Linked DNA regions of Homo sapiens: region 2 is linked to region 1. Evidence: fine-mapped expression QTL. A gene starts in region 1. The other region holds a variant in brackets. All regions are shown on one strand. Distances are between the middles of the regions.

Region 1 (2,908 bases):
AAGGAATGTTAAAACCTTACTAGCAACTAACACTTGATAAAGATTTAAACTATATAACAATTTTAAAGAAAGTCTAAAACACCAGATAGTCTTGAAACCTCGCATGCTTCACCGTTTAATAAAATTATGACTCATTTTAGTAAGAACATGCTTTTTTAGTAAGAAAAAATGCTTTCTGAGCTAAGTTTGAACTGCTGGGGCACATGGGACACCCACAAACCCAGTCAGCAGAAGTCTCAAACTCCTAAAAGATTAAAGGAAAAATACATTAGTGTGTACAGAGAATGAAAAAAAAATCCCCAATGGTTCTAATCTATAAACGGAAGTAAAACTAAAACTCCCCTAAAATCCCCCCAGTCATCAATCCTTATAAATTCAGCACTTATCTTCTTCCTTTACTTCTGGAGACCCTCATTAAACAACACGAAAGCCTTTGCTGACTTTTATCTCGTAAAATAGAGCCCTCAAATGACACTAAGCAGGGATACCGACCTCCAAAATCACAAACTGTTTTACTTCTAAAACCATGCATGCAAACGTGGGGTTTCCTGAGTTCTGCTAGGGGCGGGCTGTCTGGACCCCCGTGTATTTTTTTTTTTTTTTTTTTTTTTTTTTTTTTTTTGCAGGTGTGCAATCCAGGGTGCGCGCTCTGTGCAGGGAGGGGAGCAAAGGTGTGCGGTGGGCACCGCCTGGGCCGGGCGGGGCGGGGTGGGTGGGGCCCGGGTGTGTGCTGGGGTGAGAGTGAAGGACATGTGACAATACGACGGTGGCGGCTGCAGGATCCGGGAGGGGAGTGAAAGCTCCGCTGGGGCGCTCCATTAGTGAGCGGTGATGGTTGCCGCCCACTTGTATTGAAGCGTCCTTTGTCACTAACAAGTTAAATTAGAGATGTTATTTATTTAAGAAGAAGGAAAAAAAACCCTAGCCAAACAGCCTATGAATACATATGCTCACATCCCCTACTCCTCCAACTCCTAATTTCCCCGTCTCCAGAGGGCACAGTTGTAAACCTTGACGAAAATCCAATCTTCTGTGCGGGAATTTCCCCCCACCGCTTGCCGCCCCCGCGACAGTGAGTGGGAGCTGGAGGAGCTCTGGTCCCGCTGCCCGGGAGCACGCGGAGCCGGGCGACCGCGGTGCGGCAGCCAGGGAGGAGGGGAGGCGGCGGGACTGGGCGCGGGTCGGCGCCGCCGCGACCCGGGAGCGGGGTTTGCTCAGGAAAAGGCGCCGTCGCGGCCCCCGGCCACCCCTCCCTGGCCCCGGGCTCCCTGCCCGCGCGCCTCCCGGGCCTCGCGGCGCGCTAGGCGCACCGCGGCGGCGCGAGCGCCGAATGGGAGCGGCGACCCGGCCAGCCCGGCAGCCCCGCGGGCGGCAGCCAGGGCGACCGCGGAGGCGGCGGGCAGGGCGCGTGCGCACTGCAGGGGCGCCAGATTTGGCGGGAGGGGGAGTGTCCAAAGCTCTTTGTTTGATGGCATCTCTGTTTACAGAGTTTACACTTTAATATCAACCTGTTTCCTCCTCCTCCTTCTCCTCCTCCTCCGTGACCTCCTCCTCCTCTTTCTCCTGAGAAACTTCGCCCCAGCGGTGCGGAGCGCCGCTGCGCAGCCGGGGAGGGACGCAGGCAGGCGGCGGGCAGCGGGAGGCGGCAGCCCGGTGCGGTCCCCGCGGCTCTCGGCGGAGCCCCGCGCCCGCCGCGCCATGGCCCGAAGACCCCGGCACAGGTAACGGGGAGCCGGGCGGGCGGCCGAGGGCGGGGGCGCGCGGGGGCGCGCGGGGCGCCAGGCTCCCGGGAGCAGGTGGGAATTCGTTCCGGGATCATCTGAGGGGCTGTCAGACCCTCCGAGGACCTGGAGCCCCTGCCTCGGCAGCAGAAGCCGCTCCAGAGACTGATGAATGGAAGAGTCTTTGCGGGAAATGTATCCGGACGTTGGGAAGCACGCCCTGCGGCTCATTTTGCAAGTTGCATGGGGATACATTTTTCTTTAGGGGGAAAAAGAAAGCACGTTCCAGCCGAGGGCAGAGCGGTGCCCACCAGCCCCGGGGAGCCCACCAGGTGCCTGGCTTGATGCCGCGGGTGTCGGCGAGGGATCCGCAGCGTAATTGCTGGATGCATTGAGATATGTTTGGACTTGGAAGTGCAGAGCATATGGCAGATACAGGGAAAATGCTGGATTGTTTAGTAGCTGCAGGTAGTTCATTTAAATTTCATTCATTCTTTATGGAGGCGAGGACCAGTGTCAGCTGACAGGCGGCTGAAAAGCAGATTTTAGGGGGATAAAGGGGTCTCTACTTTTGCAAATTGTCTTAAGACCTGGTTTTGGAGGTTCGAATCATTTTTCTCTGAAAGGCTTTTACTTCCACTGCAAACATTGCACGCGCACCCACACGCGCCGCCGTCGCACATGTCACTGCACTTAGGGAGGCTCGCCGGGAAGATGGGTGCAGTCCCTTCACATTTTTGGCCGGACAGATGGGAAGAGGGAGAGGAGGAGGAGGAGGGAAATCCTCGTCCGAACTGTCAGTTGCTCGTTCCCCAGTCTCCACCGGCCTCTGGACTTTCCCAGCAGCACACGCCGGGGCTCCCTGCGAGCGGCGGGTGCCAGGGCTAGCTCGGCAGCCGTCGCAGTCGCCACTCGGCTCAAGGGGACAGAGGCCGGCAGCACCCAAGGCCGCTGCCGCGCAACCGGGACGCGATCCCCGCGGGCTCTGCCCCCAGGCGAAAGGTCCCTGCGCGGCGCGCACACGTGGATGCGGCTGAGGTCGCCGCGCCTTCTCGCACCCTCCTTCAGCCGCCTTAGGTCGCCCCGGCCGAGGCGCGGTGACCGGACAGACCCTCGCGAAGGAGTTCTAAGGCGAAGTCCATGGAGGCAAAGCAAATCCATTCGCCTTTCCTTAGATTGTTTGATTT
Region 2 (2,908 bases), 24 kb after region 1:
GTCTAGAAAAATCCAATAATTCCTTTTTGCTACTCATATGAGACATGCTAGAAATTTTTATCAGTGCAGATTCCCCAAAGCATGATGAAATGAAACATTTCTTACTGTGACTGAGACTAAGATGTATTACACGTGTGTCACTATCTTCTTCTGCCCTCAAATGTTTTATAAAAATATATCAATATAGTTTACTTTATGTTCCAAATTTTTTATTTTTTATGCTGTATCCCTAGGCAACCAAAGCTCAGAGACTGTTCCAATTTTAAATGAAGTCTGAAATTAGTCAGACAGAAAATAATTGCAATGTATTTGACTGTCAGAATAAGAAAGTCAACTGTCAATGTTGTGAGGCCGATCTGAAGTTGACCATCTGCTGTCAGGTTTTAATATCAAAAGAGATTTCCCTTGTAACCCTAAAGTGGGTGTGTGTTGATGAAATATAACCAATTCCAAATTAATCCTGAGCCAAATGTAAATAAGAATGCAAATTTTGCTTCCCTAAATTATTTAAAGCAGTTTCTGACATTAAATAGCCCAATACCCAGCCACCTGCAGAGCCCTCTCCTCCATCCCCCTGTGCCATGCAGAGGGAAACTTCATAACCCTAGAGGAAGTGAAGAGCCTGGATTCAGAAGCTGAAGGTCATATTTCTTGCTGTAAGTTAAATGGCACGATCATAGGACAGCAGCCTTTGAGTCTGCCCATTACCTTAAAGGGATTTCCCATTCTTGTGATAGTTTCTCCTTCCAAATTGTGAGAATCTGAAAACTTGCCCGGTAAGTATTTGTGATGCTTAGTTTTTCAGGGTTTTTTGTTGATGTTGCTTTGTTTTTTGAAACAGGGTCTTACCCGGTGGCCCAGGCTGGAGTGTAGTGGGGTGATCTCGGCTCACTGCAACCTCCGCCTCCCAGATTCAAGTGATTCTTATGCCTCAGCCTCCCAATTAGCTGGAATTACAGGTGTGAGCCACCGGCAACCCAGCCGTTTTTTTGTATTTTTGGATAGAGACAAGGTTTTGCCATGTTGGCCAGGCAGGTCTCGAATTCCTGGTTTCAAGTGATCTGCCCACCTCGGCCTCCTACAGTGCTGGGATTACAGGTGTGAGCTACCGCACCTAGCCAGTGCGTAGTATTATTGTAAAATAAGGATTGCAAGCACATTTTGTTTAATTAAATCAGATTGCTTCCTTCCTGGCCTCTCTCTGACAGCAATTGTTTTGGTAAAATGGCTGTGGACTGGAATGTGAGACAGGGAGTCAGTATTTATGGGGAATCTGGACAAGTTCCTGCGTCAGTGAGGCTGGAGTTGGCCCCGTGTGGAGAAGACTCAGAATACCACAAAGAGGCCAGACGCAGTGGCTCATGCCTGTAATCCCAGCACTTTGGGAGGCCAAGGCGGGTGGATAACTTGAGGTCAGGAGTTTGAGACCAGCCTGGCCAACACGGTGAAACCCCATCTCTACTAATCCCAGCTACTCGGGAGGCTGAGACAGGAGGATCGCTTGAACCCAGGAGGCAGAGGCTGCAGTGAGCCGAGATCATGACACTGCACTCCAGCCTGGGTGACAGAATGAGACTCCATCTCAAAAAAAAGAATATCACAAATAATTGGGAGATGA[G/A]GAAGAGAATGAACTCCACCCAGACATAAGAGGAACCCAGAAAGGGAGTTACAAAGATTTCAAGGCAAAGGGCAGCCATTTCAAAATTTTCCTGAAAGCTGTTCTTAGGTCCAGAAGAAAAGCTTTTGCTTTTTTTTTTTTTTTTAATTATTCCCACCTAAGTTACTTGGCTCTTGGTTTCTAGAGAACAGAATTCAACTACTGCTATTCGTGTTTTAATTAAGTTAGATTAAGTTTTGCATATATTTTCTAACCTAGTCTGGGGCCAACTTGTATTTGTAGTAGTACAGAAAAAGTCTGTTCTAAATTTCAAAAAGCCAACACATCAATATACTTGGGGACAATTACCATTACATAAGTTGAAACCCATAGTTCAGTATTGAGCTTTATCAGTATATTTGTATTTTATTTAATGGAAATATTGGTTATCTTTGAAACTCAAAATTAAGTTATAGCTCTATTTTATTAATCTGTATTCTCCTGTCTATCAGTGAGTCATATTGGCACTTTATGAATTCTAACATCTGTACACTGAGATTAAGTTGTGTATGGTGAAGGTAATATTTGTCAATTCTATCAAACTGAATAATTGAGACTTGAAAGTTAATTTTAGAGTCAATACTCCTGTCTAAACCATATAGTTTACTGGTTTACACTGACCAGATATATTTTAATAATCTGCTATAAAGCCAGGCTCAGTGGCTCATGCCTGTAATCACAATACTTTGGGAAGCCAAGACTGGAGGATAGCTTGAGACCAGGAATTTGAGACCAGCCTGGGCAACATAGTGAGACTCAGTCTCTATTAAAAAATAATTAGCTGGGCTGGGCGTGGTGGCTCACGCCTGTAATCCCAGCACTTTTGGAGGCCGAGGTGGGCGGATCACGAGGTCAGGAGATCGAGACCATCCTGGCTAACACGGTGAAACCCCGTCTCTACTAAAAATACAAAAAAATTAGCCGGGCGTAGTGGCGGGCACCTGTAGTCCCAGCTACTTGGGAGGCTGAGGCAGGAGAATGGCATGAACCCAGGAGGCGGAGCTTGCAGTGAGCTGAGATAGCGCCACTACACTCCGGCCTGGGTGACTGAGCGAGACTCCATCTCAAAAAAAAAAAAAAAAAAAAAATAATAATAATAATAATAATAATTAGCTGGGTGTAGTGGTACATACCTGTAATCCTAGCTACTTGGGAGGCTAGGGCAGGAGGATCCCTTAAGCCCAGGAGTTCAAGGTTACAGTGAGCTATGATTATACCCCTGCACTCTAGCCTGGGAGACAAGACCAAGAC

The links. PIP is the estimated chance that this variant, and not a neighbour inherited with it, causes the effect.
Region 2: its variant is fine-mapped to the expression of MYB in lung (TOPMed, PIP above 0.99). The same link has a PIP of 0.9 or more in monocytes.

What each region holds. Positions count from the first base shown.
Region 1 is chr6:135,179,816-135,182,723 of GRCh38, forward strand. It overlaps MYB (MYB proto-oncogene, transcription factor), which reads left to right and starts at 1,493. Exons shown (of 16, transcript NM_001130173.2): 1 at 1,493-1,721. The coding sequence starts at 1,699. RefSeq lists silencers at 612-721, 1,162-1,211, 1,282-1,501, 1,562-1,611, 2,661-2,740.
Region 2 is chr6:135,203,483-135,206,390 of GRCh38, forward strand. The region is part of intron 15 of MYB (MYB proto-oncogene, transcription factor); the gene reads left to right. The region is part of intron 2 of LOC105378011 (a long non-coding RNA gene); the gene reads right to left. Among named protein-coding and RNA genes, the nearest start is that of MYB, 24 kb to the left of the region's middle. The variant G/A (reference allele first, on the strand shown) is at 1,619.